Regions from separate parts of the Homo sapiens genome. Here region 1 is linked to region 2. Evidence: fine-mapped expression QTL. A gene starts in region 2. The other region holds a variant in brackets. All regions are shown on one strand. Distances are from middle to middle.

The links.
Region 1: its variant is fine-mapped to the expression of NKAIN1 in nucleus accumbens (GTEx, PIP 0.97).

The regions. Positions count from the first base shown.
Region 1 is chr1:30,254,924-30,264,281 of GRCh38, forward strand. It overlaps LOC105378618 (a long non-coding RNA gene), which reads left to right. Exons shown (of 3, transcript XR_947130.3): 2 at 1,056-1,175; 3 at 5,881-6,265. Among named protein-coding and RNA genes, the nearest start is that of LINC01648, 220 kb to the left of the region's middle. RefSeq lists an enhancer at 2,877-3,644. The variant G/A (reference allele first, on the strand shown) is at 5,117.
Region 2 is chr1:31,235,883-31,245,240 of GRCh38, forward strand. It overlaps NKAIN1 (sodium/potassium transporting ATPase interacting 1), which reads right to left and starts at 4,005. Exons shown (of 7, transcript NM_024522.3): 1 at 3,612-4,005. The coding sequence starts at 3,665.

The DNA.
Region 1 (9,358 bases), 980 kb before region 2:
CTGGGGACTGTTGGGCCGGGGCCACTGTCAGCTTGGATGTACCCAGTGAGGCAGGAGCCTGGGGTGTCCAGAGCAGAGCAGAGAGGGCTCCACCTTGAGTCTCACAGGGTCACAGGGGCTGCTGTGCGGGGAGTGAGTAGAGCCAGGGACCCATCAGGAGGCTACTGCACCAGTCCAAGCATGATGACCTTGGGATCTGGGTGGGAGCCTGGAGAGGGAGAGAAGATTGGACCTGGATTTACATTAAGATCAAGCTAATGGGACATAAGGGTTATTCGCTCCATAAATATTAGGCATCATTAGTTTTTAAAACTTTGTAATATTCCACTCATCATCTCCTTATAGCAGGCTATTTTAAACTTTGTTGTTTCCAAGAGATTTGTTTGTTATTGCATCATGTTCTAACCTATCTAGACAGTCACACCCATTTGAAAGCAGTTATGAAAATATGTACTTGTATATGAATAGAAAAAGAAATGAAGAAAGGTATTAATATGTAAAAACTACTATCTCCGGAAGGCAAGATACCAGATGAATTATATACTCTCTTGTATAAACGCCTGCACTTGCCAAATGCTTCACAGTGAGGATGCATGGTTATGTTAAGGGGAAAGATCAATGTCATTAACACCTGGGCCCTGGCCGAGGCCATCCTCATCCCAGGCTGCATTTTTCTCTCCTTCTTCTCAGGCTCCTGGTCCATTAGCACCTGTCCCCCGCAATTATCCTTTTATTACTGATCATTTTGTTCTCTGTCTGCCCTGCATAATTTAGCACAGTTATATACTGCCTTGTTGCCAAACGTTTAATTTAATGTCTCTTGGCCTCAATTTCTTCATCTCAAAGTGCAGTAGTGGCAAAAAGGGAGAACTTTAGAGGCTGCTCAACACCAACGCTCCTTCAAATCCTGGAAGAATTGAAGCTAGCACTGTCTTGGCACTTACTGTGTGGCAGGCACAGTGCTAAGCACTTTTCATGCATTAGTTTACTTAATTATTTCAACAACTCCATGAAGGAGACCCTGTTGTCATTCACCCCTCTCCTCTATTTTAAAGATGAAGATACCAAAGTTCAGAGATGATTAGGAATTTTCCAAGATCTCACAGCTCAGAAGTGACGGAGCCAGACTTTAAACCCAGGCAAACTGCTTCCGGGTCCCTGCTCTTCCTGCTCCGGTGAGCCTCAAGTCTTTACTATGCCCGGACCCTGTGCCAGGGGCTTGATACATAAAGACAAGATAGGGTGTTTGCCTACAAGTAGAATAATAATAATAATAAGTATAGCAATGCCAGTTAGCATACATTGAGAGCTCTCTTTCCTGGAGTCCCCGCAGCATCCTACGCAGTAGAGACTCCCAATCTCTATGTGAAGGATGAGGATCCAAGGAACAGAGACACTGTGTTTTGCTCAGAGTCCCACCCACAAGTATGCACTAAAATGTCACTTGAGCCCAGGAATCTGCCTCCAGCTGATGTACCCTCGTCACATCCTCGCAATAGCTCTAGGTGGTCAATAGTGTGTGTCCATTTATAGAGGGAAAAACCGATGGGGCTCACAGAGGTTCAGCCACTTCCCAAGTCACATGTTGAGTGAGGGCTGGAGGCTGAATGTGAACCCAAGTTAGTGGGGCCTGGGGCTCATTTTCTTCTAACTATTCCAATGGTGAGGGACCCAGAGGGGCCAGGGCCCTCCAGTTGCTGGAGGAGCTGCCCACCTGGACAGCCATGGGGCCAGAGAACCACGGTCCTGACACAACTGAACCGCAAGACTAAGAATCCTCACTGAGCTTGCTACTTGTGTTGCCACATTTACTTCTAGCCCCTACGCAATAAGGTAGATGCTACTACTATCCTCAGCTAACATATGAGGGGACTGAGCTCAGAGGGCTTAAGTGAGCTTCCCGACCTCTAACAGCAGGTAAGTGGAAGAGCCAGGGCTGGAAACCTGTGTAGGCCAAAGCCTGTGGTTTAACCAGGAGGCTATACTGCCTTCCTCCCCTGTGCCCAGGGCTTGGAGACCATTAACCGGAACCAAGTCACCAGGGTGACTGGTGGCAGTCTCTCTAGCAAGTGTTTGTCCTAAATCCGGTAGGAATCTGTCATCTAGCATGATTGTTTTAATTCCCAGGAAGACTGGGCAGGCCAGCGATGGGTCAGGTCTTCATGGGACCCACAGCAGTGACAGCTGAGCCCCTCCCCCGCAGCAGGTCTGGGTTGTGGGTCGTGTGTCCCCCTTGGTGCCCAAGCTCACATTACGGTGCTGGTGAGGAGTCTCAAGCAGTTATTAAACTCTGGTGTGCCTACCAGTGTATAATTGTGGACATGGGTTTTGCATATTTTGATAAATATACAAATGTGAAATGTGTTGTCCATCACTAGCATATGCTTATGTTCCATGTTAAATGTATCTAATGTGTATTTCCCCAAAGAATGAAAGTTGCCAATTCATGACCAAGACACAGTGACACTATTGATTACACAGAATATGTTTATTCATCAACTTGGAGGAGGGCAGCCAGGATGGTGACCAATATCCCCACATCACAGGCAGGTCTGCGGCCCTGGAGCTCCAGGAGCAACAGACAACAGGGTTGGGACAGTGACTGGCCCAGCCACTGGCCTGGACCCAGGGTGGGAAGGGGTCATCTGGGCACCTGCCTGTGCCAGCTCCACCCAGGGCCCTGCAGTGGGTCAGAGCACAGCAGCTGGAATCTGAGCACCCTGGAGCCCCACCTGCCCTCACTCCACCTGGGTTCCCCTTCCTGAGCCTCAGTTTCCTCTGATGTAAAATGAGGATGAAAAGGGCTCTTTCCTCAGGTAGCTGTGAGGATTAGGTGAGCGAGTGCAAGTACAGGGTGCCCAGCACGCGTAGGAAGTGCTCGCACCTATGAACTGATATTCCTGCTATTGTCACCCCCAGGACTGTGACAGAGAGGGCACCACGGGCCACTTTACAGATGGGCCTCATCCCCGCAATAGCTGACAGGTGTTAACACCCCCACGAGCCCGGGCACCTGCACACACGACCCACGTCACCTGCATGACCTCCCTATGCAGCAGGTGCTGTCATGGTCCCCACTCCACAGGGGAGGAGGTTGAGTGCTTCCCAGATCACACAGCCCACAGGGGCGGAGGCTCAGAGCTGGATTTTCTTTCCCTACCCCAGACGCCACACTGCCGGGGGAAACTGTCAGCAAACACCAACAAGAAGGTGGTGGACACATGGGGCTGCCCCCCAGTAGACCTGCCCCTCCTCCTTCACTCACAGAACCCTGTGTTTGTTCTGCAGTCACAGGCTCAGGCCTGGGGGCCCCTCCAGCCCTGGGGTAAAGCCAAGCCAGGCACCCCATCCCCCTTCTCCAGAGATCATTTTATGGGTGAGCGTGTGGCCCAGACTTGGCCACCAAGATATGAGGGGAAATCTGTTGGTGGAGGGAGTGCTTCTGGAAAATATTTTTTTCTGCCTCACCCTGCAAACTTCTTCTTGACTTGAAGGCTGTAGCGTGAGACATGATGTTTGGAGCTGCAGCAGTCATCTTGCAACCATGAGGCAACAAGCTAAGGACAAAAAGCCCACATAGCCAAGGATGGTAAAGATGGAAGAGGGAAAGTGCTTGGGTCTTTGTCAACATCCCTGCGCATCTGACTAAGCTGCAACCACTTCTCTCCAGACGTGTGGCGATGCCAGAGCATTCTACTTTCTCATCGCTTGAGCACTGTTGTTAGGTTGTCTGTTACATGTTGCCCAACGCGTCCTAACTGAGGGAAGTGCCTGCTATGTGCCAAGCACACATCTGCCTCATAGGATCATAGCCATTTGTCCATACTTCATCTTCCCTTTTAGACTCTGGAATCCTAAAGGTGGAGATTATGTCTGGGTCACATCCCAGTCATCACATGGGGATGGGACAGTGTCCCATAGTGAAACCCAATCACCATGACTTTGACAATATGAAGGAAGGAAGGAAGGAAGGAAGGAAGGAAGGAAGGAAGGAAGGAAGGAAGGAAGGAAGGAAAGAGCAATTAACAAATAAATGATCATGGTGAATGTGGAAATGCTTTGTACCCTGTAAAGTACTGAGCCCAAAGGCAGGCTGAGACTCTGGCAGGGGGACACAGACACGGGATAGAAGGAGGTACAGGCGTAAGGAGCAGAGATCAGAGAAAAAGCGGCAGCTCCTCCCACCCCCACTTCAGCAGGGGTGAGGGCGCAGTTATCCTCCCAGATGCTCCTCCTGCTCACACAGACTTCAGGTCTGGAAAATCCCACCCACTCCCTCATGCCTCTTCTCCTTTACTTGTTGACTTTGACAGCAAATCACCTCCCTTCCTTCCCTAAACAGACAGTGAAAGGCAAAGCTTTGTGCTCTGTCATTTTCCCCCTAAAAAATTGTATGAGAAACCAAATGGTTATCATTATGCCGGCTGCAATCTGTTGCATTATTTTTTAAAGGTGGAGGAGGGGTCGGTACCAGGAGAGAAAGCAGCAGGGAGAAATGGAAAGAAACTCTTTAGGGCAAATGGCTTTAAAATTTCAGCTCCAGGTCTCACAGGGAGACTGGATTAAAGGATCATTTCAAATGAATTTTGCCATCAGAGTGAGAGATCTGTCCTCCCAAAATGCTCTACTTTGACAGTTGGCTTCAAGGGGCTTGACAGATTTTATTTCTCCAGCAGACAAGAGAGATCAAGGTATTAAACAAAACATATTCCACCCTAAGAACTCTGTTACATGCTTAACTTAATGGAAGTGAGATCTTGCCAAAACTGCGAAGTCATTTTCTTCCCCCAGGAAAATTGCTTGTGGTCGGGGAGTTGGCAGGTAGTCAGGGGCAGAGGTGTAGGTGGAAGAGTTCCTGCTTGAGACCTCCTGGGTCTGCCCTCCTGCCCTCCAGGTCGCCCTGGGGAAGCCGGCAATGGAGAGTCCTGACAGTCCAGCCTCTACCTGCTCCTTCCCTCCCGGCCTTGGTTTCTCCTCTATCACGGGGGATGGTGCCCTTTCCCGTAGAAGTTGCAATTTCGCCAGATCCAGATTTCCTGTGTCATCACATTGTATCCCTGCAACCACCCTCAAGCACCAGAAAGATTCTAGGGTTGAGCCGGGTGCAGTGGCTCAC[G/A]CCTGTAATCCCAGAACTTTGGGAAACCAAGGCAGGTGGATCACTTGAGGTCAGGGGTTCGAGACCAGCCTAGCCAAAATGGTGAAACCCCATCTCTACTAAAAATTCAAAAATTAGATGGGGGTGGTGGTGAGCACCTGTAGTCCCAGCTACTGGGGAGGCTGAGGCAGGAGAATCACTTGAATCCAGAGGGCAGAGGTTGCAGTGAGCCAAGATTGTACCATTGCACTCCAACCTGAGTGACAGAGAAACTTTGTCTCAAAAAATAAAAAATAAAGAATCTGGGGTTGGCCTTAGTCACCCTCCCACTCTGACCCTCAGAGTCCTCCCCTGTAAAAACAACAGACCTGATGAGATGTACCTCCTGGAGGGGCTGTAGGTTCTAGGAACCCACAGGTGAGAGCCACAGGCAGAAAAGCACAAGGGTATGAGGACACAGATGCAGCACACACAGTAGGCCTTCAGCTGTGGCAGTGGTCCCCAGGATGCCAGATGGGCTGGGAGGACAGCAGGGGCTTTGGAGACAATCCGGGAGGAGGTGTTCATGGCAAACAGAGGCATCCAATGAACAGTCATGCTCGTACTGTCATTGTACAGGGTGAAAACGCCACCCCTGAGACAGACACCACAGGTTCAAATCCTGGATCCATTGTAACTGAGTGTCTCAGCCTTGAAATGCATTTTGAACTTATTTTTTCCTGTCCTTCTTCATCTCAGAATGTAGCCTTGTGCTTTAGAACATTTGTTTCTTCCCTACCCACCAGGTACTCCCATGAACAGTGCTCCTTATCTCATTATGTGCTGGCTTAGAAATTCCAGGGGCTAATTTTGAAACAAACCAGGCTTGCAGATCCAGCTATGAAATCAGCTTGCTTAGTGGGCTTACAAACAAGGAGACCACCACCAATAGGCAGAAGTCAAGATGATGCCAACTGGACCTCCAGGTGCTTGACTACTCAAGAAAGCCTTTGGAGCAAGACCTGCAGACCTGCACCTTCCTGCACCCCTCCCACCTGTTTCCTGTACCATGTCTCCCTTCTGAAACCATCTCACTCAGCCCAGAAAGTTGGACTGGTCTTTTAAAAGCATGAGTCTGGCCATTCCCCAATTGCTAGCTTCCAATTAATAAAACTGTTTTCCTTTCGCTGCGCCTTGTTTCTCATGTTTTCAACCTCTGAATAGGGAGCAGCTGAACTTGAGCTGGTGACACCATCGCTGACTTGCTCTGGGCCATTGGGCAGGTCCTGTTCTCTCCCTGTGCTTCAGCTTCCCCATCCGTAATCCAAGGATGATAATTATAACAGCCTTACAGGCAAGACACAGGTGATACTCACTAAGGGGTAATTAAGATGGTAATGACTATGAGGATGGCAAAGATGATGACTGACAACAGTCAGGATGATGACGATGATGACACCATGAGTATAATAATGAAAACCAAGACAATGGTGACTATGAAGATGAGGATGACAATGATGCTGAAGACAGCAATGATGATAATTGTGTTAGGCTGTTCTTGAATTGCTATAAATCAATACCTGAGACTGGGTAATTTAGAAGGAAAAGAGATTGAATTGGCTCATGCTTCTGCAGGCTCTACAGGAAGCATAGTGCTGGCATCTGCTCAGCTTCTGGGGAGGCCTCAGGGAACTTACAGTCATGGCAGATAGTGAAGGGGGAGCAGGCACATCACATGGCCAGAACAGGAGCAAGAGAGAGAGAAGGACCAGATCACACTTTTAAGGGACCAGATCTTGTGAGAACTCACTCACTTTGGGAGGACAGCACCAAGAGGTGCTCTCACCATTTGTGAGAAATCCACCCCCATGATACAATCACCTCCCACCAGGCCCCACCTCCAGCCTTGGAGATTACATTTCAACATGAGATTTGGGCAGGGACACAGATCCAAACCATATCAATGATGATGAAGATTCTTCCCCCAGAAATGATGATGATGGCAGTCATAACCACACTGATAATGCCTGCCATTGATCAGGCACTGACTGTGCTTTGTCTCAAGCCCACGAAGGCCCAGTTTTATCATTATCCCCTCCTTGTTCCCCCTCCCCAGTGCCCATCATCTCCTATACCTGCACTCCCCCAGCCATTTCTCCACTGTCTGTCTGCGGCCCTTAGCAGACTGCATCCTGTGCTCACATCCCGTAATGCGGCCAGCAGAATGGGGGGCCTCACAACCCAAGCTCAGTTGTAATAAGCTCTGTCACCAGCATCAGGGAGAGCCAGCAGAGACCAGCCATTCCACTCCCTGCTGGGTAACCCAGGGCAAGTTCCCCTGCCTCTCCGAGGCTTCATGCCTCTGCAGTAACAGGGAGAATTCGACCCACTCTGGGGGCATTGTGAGGGGTGAACAGGATAGCCCATGTGCCTGGGACACAGTAGCACCTCTAGAAGCAGCCATTTCCCTGACACCTGACCCACTGCATAGGCCCCTGGGGAAGGACCTGGGACCCACCATGATTCAGGATTTGCAGAAATGCCTCTGGGATGTTCCCCAGTGTCAGCTTCCCCCCAGATACCGTCAGACCTTGCCTATTTTCAGAAAGGATAAAATGCATGTGACAGCTTCATCTCTAAAAAGAATCACATTGCAGTTATTGCCACAGCGACATTCAAGTCAGGTAACCTCTTGCCTATCTGCCAAGGGGGTTGTGTGTATGCAGGTGTGTACCTATGTGTCTGTGTTTATGTGTGCACATATGTGTGCAGGGCCCACATTCAAGCCCTCAAATGTGACCTTGTGGTGCTGTTACTAAGAGGTTCTTCCCATGGACTCAGGGGCACAGGGAAAGAAGGCAAGACTTTCATCTAACAGCCTCCTCTGTGTGTCCTGGTTCCCATCCACTCTGCCTCACCTGTGGAAAGAATTAGCTTTTTAAAAATAAACCTTGTGATTACCTGATAAATCACACATCACATATTTGTTGACAAAAGTGTTCATTTGTACAATGTAAATATTTAGGTAATATCCCAGTATTTGTGATTCTATTTTAACATTTATTTATTTTCCAATTTTCTGGGAGCAACAAAACAGAGAAGAGGCCTGGGCTGCTCTGAGCTCTGTGGGGCTGGTGCTGGGCGGACACGGCCCATCATGCGGCTGGTGAGCACACAGGTGTGGAGCCTTATACGTGTGCCTGTGGACACATGTGCCTGGGGTTCTGTCTTGCTACCTTCCTGCCCCATGGAAGGAAGAGAGAAAAAAAGAAAGCAGAGAGAGAGGAAGGGAGAGAAGAAAAGGGAGGACTGGAGTGTTGAAGAAAAACGTATTCAATGATACTTCTCAAAGCACTTGAGGTATACTTAATAAGTATACTTATTATACTTGCTAAAGCATGGAAAGGAAGAATTTATTCAGGGCCATGATGTGTCTTGCCCATGTTCCAGGCTGAGTGGCCTGGGAGGACAAGCTACTCTGCTAAGGGCCAGGTGGGCAGATACCCCCCTTCATCCTGCCCCTGACTGTTCTCACCTAGAGCTCACTTCTTCCCCTCAACCCCTGGCTTCTGTCCCTCAGCACAATGGCCTGTCCAGCCCCACATTGACCCCCAGGCAAGGAGTCTCTCCTTGGCCAGATGATTCCAGGCTCTGTCCTCTGTCAGTGGCCTGGTGTGGCCACCCACTCCCCAAGCCCTGCAGGACCTTAGTGGGCAGCACTGCGGGCACTGCTGTGTTCACTGCTCCACGCAAGACTGGCGAAGCTGTGCCGGAACCAGGCTGTGAGCTGTTAACTTGCCAGTTACAATTGGCCTGGAGCAACAAAACAGACCATTTCCTCTCCACCTGACCCACTTGCACAGGCCCCTGGGGTCACCCCTGTACAGGACTGGAGAGTGCCATGATGAGGTGAGGTCCTCAGGAGGCTGCAGTGTGGCACCACCTCCACCGCCCCCCACCCCGCATCTCTCTCCAAACCCACAGCTGGTTTCAGGCCTGGCAAGTCTTATGGGCCTGGGCTTGGAGTCTCCAGATCTCCCAGGAGCTCCCAGAGCAGGACAGTGGAGCCACTGGAGCCACTCCCCAGGCAGCCCTCTTTACCACTTAAGCAAAAGCAATGTTGGCTGGGCTCTGAGCCCTAGTGGGGCATTATGCTCATTTACTCACGTCATCACAGGTTCACACCCCGGGAGGCAGGCCTTCTTCACAGGAGGCAACAAGGCTCCTTCCTAGCTGGTAGCCAGGTCGCCCAAGGCAAGCCAACACTCAAGCACATTGCAGCTC
Region 2 (9,358 bases):
GGACAGTCCACAAAGGACAGTGCAGGGGGTCACCTGGATATGTTTGGGCTACAGTGCCACAGACACATCCCATGATATGAATCATTAAGATAATAACAATAAGCTACAGTTTAATGAGTACTCACTCTGTACCTGCCAGAGTGCTAAATTCATTATATGGACTGAGTCCTCACAACAACCCTAAGGATTAGGAACTGTTTTATATTCTCTCTATTTAACAGATGACAAAACTATGTGGCTCAGAGACGGTAAGCAACTTGCCCAAAATTGCATAGCCAGGAAGTGACAGAACCAGGTCTAAAAGCCAGGTCTGTCCTGTCAAACTTCAGAGCCTTAACTACTATCCTACACTTATCCATCTGAAAGGCACAGTCCCTACCTGCTTCCCTTAAACCCCATGGCACCCTCACACCTCACTCCCTCACCCAAATCACATCTATCCCAACTGAGGAAGAATGTTTCGAATTGGCCTGATTCATTGTAACGATTAAACTCCATTTGAGAAAGAAAAATGACACAGTTCCTCCTAAGTTTTCAGCTGAAAGATATTTAACAGCCTCTTTTTTCCCTTCAGTCCCTTGGATGAGAAAACCAAGACTCCCTTCTCCCCTCAGGCTGGTGAATTCCAACATCCCGGGGCACATTATGGAAGCTATCAGGCAGTAGGGGCTCATGGAGGTTAGTGACAACTGGAGGGCCCACTCTGCAATGAGCCCAGATAGTGCAACAGAGCCAAGAGAGCAATTTTCAAGTTCCTCCCGCAAATGATCTTGTGCAACCTTCACAAGCTGCCCAAAGCCACCCAGCCGGGATGTGGGAGAAACCAGAATGCCACCCAGGTCTCATCTAACTCAAGCCTCTAGTGCTGGTGAGCTCCTCTAAGTGGAAGAGTGGGGTTAGCTTAGCAAGGGAGAACTATGGAGGAAGGGAAGTGGGAGGCAGAGAGACACTCTACCACCTTCATTTCTCTCTAGAGCCATGAGCTCCTTCCATGGGGCCCCAGACTTACCAGGGCCAGAACTACTTATTTTATAATTAAGAAGGCAACAGAGGACCTGGCCAACTGCCTGGATTCAAAGCCTGGATCCTGGCTGGATGTGGTGGCTCATGCCTATAATCCCAGCACTTGGGAGGCTGAAGTGGGAGGATGGCTTGACCACAGGAGTTTGAGACCAGCCTGGGCAACAAGAGTGAGACCCACCTCTAAAACACAAAAAAATTAGCTAGGCATGGTGGTGTGCCCCCGTAGTCCCAGGTACTCAGGAGGCTGAGGTGGGAGGATTGTTTGAGCCTGGGAGGTCAAGGCTGTAGTGAGCTATGATTGCACCACTGCACTCTGTCCTGGATGACAGAGTGAGCCCATGTCTCAAACAAAAACAAAAACAAAACCCCCAAAACAAAGCCTGGGTCCTAGTTCCTGTAGAATTCTGGACAAGTTACTTCATAGGGCTGTTAGGATTAAATGAGTTAATACCTGGAAAAGTGCTTCCAAGAGTACCTGACACTTAGTCAAGGGCTCTCCAAAGCTAACCGTTATTATCGCCAACAGAGAATGAGCATGGGACAAACTGCTAACAGGTTCACCTTTGGGGAGGGGTCTAGTTATAGAGAGAAGAAAACTTTTTTTTTTTTTTTGAGACACAGTTTCACTCTGTCGTCCAGGCTGGAGTGCAGCGGCGTGATCTCATCTCACTGTAACCTCCGCCTCCTGGGTTCAAGTGATTCTCATGTCTCAGCCTCTCGAGTAGCTGGGATTACAGATGCGTGCCACCACCCCTAATTTTTGTATTTTCAGCAGTGATGGGGTTTCTTCATGTTGGCCAGGCTGGTCTCGAACCCCTGACCTCAGGTGATCTGCCCATCTCGCCCTCCCAAAGTGCTGGGGTTACAGGCATAAGCCACGATGCCTGGCCTAGAAAACTTACTTTTTATTTATCTGTCCTGTTTGATTATGTATGTATTTATTTTTTACAATATATGTATATTACTTTTCTAATTAAAAAAAACCCCTAGTTTAAAATTAAAAAATTAACAAACACAGAAGAATCCTCTGAAAGGTTTAAACATTTCTTGGCATTTCATGTTCCTCAAAGTAGATAAAGAAAAACAGACAATCTCTGCCCTTCTGGAGTTCCCATTCCACCTGATCTTAATTAATTCCCTCTGCAATCCTCAGGGATAATCATTTTACAGATAAGAAGACTGAGGCCGGCCAGTGGGGGGAAGTCACTTGTCCAGTCTCCCACAGCTGGGAGCAGGGCTACAATCTCCAGAGCTAGGGCTGTTTCCACCACTGCCCAGGCCAGGTCTGTGGATGGCATGTTTGAAGCTGGTGTCCCCAGGAGGAGAGAAGCAAGACGAATGAGGAGGTCTGCATGTCCAGGCTCAAAACTTCACTCTACATTATCATTGGCTCCTGTGGTGGGGAGGGCGTGATGGATGCAGGCAAGAGTGGAAACCCAGAACAAGGAGTCCAGCATGAGGGGGGCTCAGGCTCCTCGCTGCCCACTCTCAGACCTGGGTTCGGCGATGGAGGTCCCCATGCACCTCTGCCTAGAGGAGAAGCACAGCTTCAACCTCCCTAGTTGTTCAATCTCAGCTCTAGGGTAGGTAGGAGACCCCTGCCTCTCCTTAACCACCCTCCCAAATTCCCCTGCCAGGGCCTGATTTGAAGGGCAGTGCTGTTTCTTCTAGTCCACTACAGTCACTCCTCCCTGAGACAAGAACCTGAGTTCCCTATGCTGGGGCTAGGCACAGTGTCCTCAGATGCTCTGGTCCTCCCTAGGGCACCCAAGTGTCCCCATCCCCACTGTTGCTGGCCCCGGCAGAGGAGCTGCTCTGGTGGGTGGAACTGATGACTGATGGAACCCCCATGGCCACAGCGGCCAGACCAAAGCAGGAAGTGTGGTCCAGGCTGGGTCAGGCTGGCCCAGGATCTGGCAGCTCCTGGTGACCCTCTCCAGGGAGGTGGCTCTCCTTTCCCAGGACTGCCCGGTCAGGAAGGTGAAGGGAGGCAGAAACAACACAAAGGATTGGAGGGTTCTTGGAGTCTAAGATCCCAGAACACAGATGAACATGGGCCAGAAATGGTCAGCGATTTAGAGACACACCAAAGAGAAACCCTGAGAGACACACGCCGGAGCAGAGACTTTGTGAGAAACGCTCACACAGGGGTGGTGATCAGAGGCAGAGACCCAGAGGAAGGGAGAGACCCATGCAAACGAGGGATCTAGAGGGAAACACACAGCAGGACCTCAACGGATCCACAGATCAGCCTCAGACACACCCCCAGTCCCAGCAAGCCACCGTCCCACAGCGCATCCCCCAACAGGAGGCCACTTGTACAGTGCGGGCGGGCCGGGGACTCGCGCACAGGACGCACTTGGGGACCGGAGGAGCGCCGGGCACAGCAGCGAGAAGCGCACACAAAGAGACAGCCCGGCCAGCGGGAGCAGGCTCCGCCCGACCGCTCCGAGACTCCAGACCACCCCCCGCCCGGGCACACGCACCAGACACACACACAGAGACACACGCAACCCCACCCGCACGCCCTGGGACCGCGCCCCGCCGCGCCCCACCCTGCCCCGACTGCCTGGGCACGCGACGCTTACCAGCTGCAGGCAGCAGAAGGCGACCAGCGTGCAGCGCCCGCTGCACTTGCCCATGGCTCCGGGGGCTGCGCGGGCCGCACGCCGCGGCGCCCTTCTTGCTCCGCGGCCGCCGCCTGCTCGCGCCGCGCGGGCTCCACGTCCTCCCCGCTGGGCGCGCCGGGCGGCGGGGCCGGGCGCCTAGGGCCGGGCCCGGGAGTGTCCGGTCCCCAAGGCTGGGGCCGGCCGCCCGCGCTCCGAGTCCATGGTCCGTCCGTCCGCGCGCTGGCCCCGCCGAGCCGCGCCTCCTTTGTCTAGCGGGCCGTCCGTCAGGCGCGCCTCCTGCCCCGGGGCGGCTGGCGGGGAGCGCGGAGCAAGGAGAGCGAGCCCCGAGCGCGGCGCAGCGCAGAGCAGCACTGCCCAGCTGGGGCAGTCGCCCGGGCTCTCGTCGGCCGCGGCTTCCCGGCCCCACCACGTGGCTCCGCCGCCGCCACCGACAGGGAGGGAGTTGGGGGGAACGGCAGAGGGGTGGGGCGGGGGAGCCGCCGGAGGGGAGGGGAGAGGGATAGGGAGGTGGAGGGTTGGAGAGGCAGGGAGTGAAGTGGAAGAGTGCGTGCGGGCTTAGGGGACAACAGCCCTGAGTCAAATCCAGACTTTGCTGCTCACTCGCTGTGTGACCTTGGGCAAATCACGTCACCTCTCTGGACCTGTTTTCTCATGAACAAAGTAGGAATAATTATGCCTCTTTAGTGTAGATATGAAGATGAAATGCAGTCATGTGAATAAAGCGCTTAGCCCTGTGCCTGGCCTCCTGGCTTGGAACACTTTTTTGTCCACCCTGTCTCTAGGGCTCCAGGGTTCCAACTTGGACTTCTAGTTCTATTTACGTTCCCAGATCTGCTCCTCACCCCAGCCTCTCCCCTGAGTGTCTGGCCACATTTTTCGCCTTCCTTCTTTCCGTCTACTGGCATTTATTGAGCCCTGACTGCATACACACCCCTGGGGGCCCTGCGAGCCAGAGATGAGACCTGCAACACTGTTCCAAATCCCGTAGAGCTGCACCGCCCAGGGAACAGATAGGCTCCCAAGAGCACGCCAGTGAGATGGGTGATGGCAGAGATCTGCCCAGGTGGAGGTAGGGAGCCCCTACCCTGGGCTGCAGTAGGGACAGAGTCAGAAGTTTCCCAGCAGAAGATTGCCTTCTCCAAGCCACCCCCAAAAGCCCTCGAACTGGACACATCTCAAATCCACATAATCATTCCTGTCCCACTCCTAACTTCCTATATTCACCTTGGCAATTAGCATCACCCAAGTGGAATTTCCTAGGTCATCCTCCAGGCTTCCCTACAATTACATCTGATCTGTCACTACATTCTATAAACTGTACTTTCCAACTAACATTTATGAAATACCCACTATGTGCCAGGTTCTCTGCTGGGGATAAGGGAACAAAACCCGACAAAATCTCTGCCCTCATTGAGCACACAGTCTAGTGAGGGATTGTCATTAAAACAAGGAAATATACAAATAAATACGCAAAGTTCTGATGAATACTCTAAAGAATATTAAAGAAGAAACGTGGCACGGTGGCTCACACCTGTAATTTCAGCACTTTGGGAGGCTGAATCAGCTCACTGCAACCTCCACCTGAGTGGAGATCGGCCTCCCAAAAGTGAGTGGATCACCTGAGTTCAGGAGTTCGAGACCAGCCTGGCCAACGTGGTGAAACCCCATCTCTACTAAAAATACAAAAATTAGGCAGGGATGGTATCAGGCACCTGTAATCCCAGCTACTCAGGAGGTTGAGGCAGGAGAATCGCTTGAACCCGGGAGGTGGAGGTTGCAGTGAGCCAAGACCATGCTATTGCACTTTAGCCTAGGCGACAAAAGCGAAACTCTGTCAAAATAAATAAATAATAAATAAAATACTAAGGGAGAAAAGAGAGAATGAGAGGGGCATAATTTAGGTTTGGGGACCAGGAAACACCTCTTTGAGGAAACGAAACTGATACTGAGACGACAATAGGAAGGAAGGAGAGGCAGGGGAGTGAAGAGTGTTCTGGTGGAAGAAACAGAAGGTTCTTATTCTTTCCCTTCCTCTCCACTCTCACTAGCCCTCTTGATTCGAGAGACAGGAAGTATGGTAAGATGTAGGTTAGGACCCGTGGTTTTGGACCCAAACGGCCTGGGTCCCGGTTCCAGCACTGTCACTTGTTTGCTGCTCACATAGTAAGCATGCAAATAAATGTGTCACTGTTTTCTTCCAGGACTGGCTACATAGTTTGGGGGGCCCAGCACAAAATGAAGATGCAGCACTTCTTGTTAAAAAATTAAGAATTTCGGCCAGACGCAGTGGCTCATGCCTATAATCCCAGCACTTGGGAGGCCTGGCCAGATGACAAGGTCAGGCGTTCGAGACCAGCCTGACCAACATGGAAAAACCCTGTCTCTACTAAAAATACAAAAAATAATTAGATAGGTGTGGTGGCACATGCCTGTAATTCGCAGCTACTCAGGAGGCTGAAGTGGGAGAATTGCTTGAACCCAGGAGGCAGAGGTTGTGGTGAGCTGAGATCACCCCACTGCACTCCAGCCTGGGGCAACAAGAGCAAAACTCCATCTAAAAAAAAAAAAAAAATTAAGAATTTCAAGATGGCAACACAGCAGAGCGTGAAGTCAAGAACATGCAGGGGGCCGGGCGCTGTGGCTTACGCTATAATCCCAGGACTCTGGGAGGCCAAGGCAGGCGGATCACTTAAGGTCAGGAGTTCAAGATCAACCTAGCCAACATGGCAAAACCCCATCTCTACTAAAAATACAATAATTAGGCCAGGCGTGGTGGCTTATACCTGTAATCCCAGCACTTTGGGAGGCCAAGGCGGGCAGATAATCAGGAGATCGAGACCATCCTGTCCAACATGGTGAAACCCCATCTCTACTAAAATACAAAAAATTATCCAGGCGTGGTGGTGCATGCCTGTAATCCCAGCTACTAGGGAGGTTGGGGCAGGGGAATCGCTTGAACCCAGGAGACGGAGATTGCAGTGATCCAAGGTCACGCCACTGTACTCCAGCCTAGTGACAGAGTGAGACTCCATCTCAAAAAATAAAAATTAAAAAAATACAAAAATTAGCTGGGCGTGGTGGCATGTGCCTGCAATCCCAGCTACTTGGGAGGTTGAGGCATGAGAATTGCTTGAACCCAGGAGATGGAGGTTGCAGTGAGCTGAGATTGTGCCACTGCACTCCAGCCTGGGTGACAGAGTGAAACGGTGTCTCAAAAAAACAAAGAACAGAAAACAAAACATGCAGGGTCCTGTGTGACTGCAGAGGTCACATGCCCATGAAGCCAATTGTGTCTTCTCCCTGGACTTTAAGGTGGGTCTCTTTGGCCGGGCGTGGTGGCTCACACCTGTAATCCCTGCACTTTGGGAGGCTGAGTCGGGTGTATCACCTGAGATCGGAGTTTGAGACCAGGCTGGCCAACATGATGAAACCCTGTCTCTACTAAAAATACAAAAAATTAGCTTGATGTGGTGGCAGGCGCCTGTAGTCCCAGCTACTCAGGAGGCTGAGGCAGGAGAAATCACTTGAACACGGGAGGCGGAGGTTGCACTGAGCCAAGATCGTGCCACTGCATTCCAGCCTGGGTGACAAGAGCAAAACTCCGCCTCAAAAAAAAAAAAAAAAGATGGGTCTCTTCACAGGTCTCCCTCTTCCACCCATTCTGCAGGATACCACTTTGTATTTTAAAAGACACAGAATATCCCCACCGTTGAATATCCTATGTGTGCTGAAGTTTTCACTTGGGTCAATAAGCTAATAGTGGGAACTTTTCTTTTCTTTTTCTTTTTTTGAGACAGGGTCTCGCTCTGTCGCCCAGGCTGGAGTGCAATGGAGAGATCACAATTCAGTGCAGCCTTGACCTCCGAGGCTCATTTGATCTTCCCACCTCAGCCTCACGAGTAGCTGGGACTACAGGCGTGTACCACCATGCCTGGCTAATTTTTGTGTTTTGTGTAGAGACAGAGTTTTGCCATGTTGCCCAGGCTGGTCTCAAACTCCTGGGCTCAAGCGATCCACCTGCCTCGGCCTCCAAAAGTGCTGGGATTATAGGTGTGAGCCACAGTGCCTGGCAGAACAGCAGGAAATTTTCTCAGCCATGCTTGGCAAATAACAGCTGTGTCCAACCAGGTTCCGTGACTAGACAGGCTTCCAGGAGTCTGTGAAGTCCCTGAAATAATATGCAAAGCATCATGTGAGCAGCTGTGCCTTTTTCTGGGGAGAGGCACAGCTTTCGTCAGGTTCTCCAAAGAGTCCATTTCCCACAAAAGAATAGAACCACCTCCACAAAGGCTCAGCCCAGATGTAACGTTCTCTACCAGATCCTCTGCTGGGCCTCTTCCAGATATAATCTCTGCCAGTTACCTCTGTGAGGCTAACAATGCAACTCAATAACAAAAAGACAATAATAGCTACCATTTATTGAGTGTTTACTCTGAGCCAAGCTTCTACATGCATTATCTCATTTAATTCCTATAGTAACAGTGGATTCCCACTGGGGCTCTGACCACCCCTGCCGGCTCTTGACTATATCTGGTCATGCCTGTAACCTCTATTCCAAGGCCTGGCTGACTCACTCATAAGTCTGTCCTGTGGGAGTGGGGATGGCCTGTCTGACCTCAGTAGAATTAACCTCTGCCCCTGGCTCATTCCCGCAAGTGCTGCCCTGACGAATTCACGCACACAGGATGCCCTCTCATACTTCCACTCTTAAGCAACTACGTCATAAATTATCTCTACATCCTACAGGGCTAGGATCAGGGCAGGAATCAGCAAATGTGTAGCAAATGAATGATTGCACACCCAGCACTCCTGTCGTTCCTGCTTCAGTGCCCAGCATATCTTGTGCCCTCTTTACCACCTGGAAGTCAGGGTTCTACGGAGGAAGACAGCCTAACTGTAGGAACAGATAGAAACATCTTTGGCAAGAAGTTGGAGGGGCTAGGAGCTGGGGATGACATCAATATTCACCTTGAAGGATGACTAACCCTTGGGCCAAAGAAATGCTGTGGGGAGAATGAAGCAGGGTTTGGAAATAAAGGAGAGAGATGATTCAGAATATATCCACACTTCCTGAGCGAGAAGACAGAGGCATGGTCAGCCCGGAGAGAAGCATGGTGGGTTCTGCTGAGGTGATGAGATTTCTAGAGGGTTAAGAACTTTCTCCCCTGCCCTGAACCAAGGCTTGTCAGTGTTTCAGTCTTCCACCATTAGTCTCTCTGTGGGTTAAAACACTAAAGGCTTCTGAGAAAGTTCACTTATAAGATAGCTGAGTTGTTAAACATAATAATTTCCCTGCTTTCAAGTTAGAGGACTGAACATGCTCACTAATTACAGCCTCTGGGATATTTTCTGACATCAGCCAAATTCTTCACACCAACTGGGTGGCCAGCAATCCAGTTCAATTCTGACCCTAGCTATTAGGGGTTAGTGTAGACCCCACAGGTTAAGGACTCAGTTCTTCAAGACTGCCCCTACTTCAGACCAGTCACAAGTCTCTGGCCACCCAGCTATACTGCTGATAAACTGGCTATAAATTGGGGGTTCCTGCTATCCCCTCCTCAGTTCTAATAGTTTGCTAGAATGGCTCACAGGATCCAGGAAGGCATTTTACTTACGTTTGTCTGTTTATTTTAAAGGATACTAATGAGGAGCCAGATGAAGAAGTATACAGGGTGAGGTCCAGAAGAGTCCCAAGTGCAGGAGTT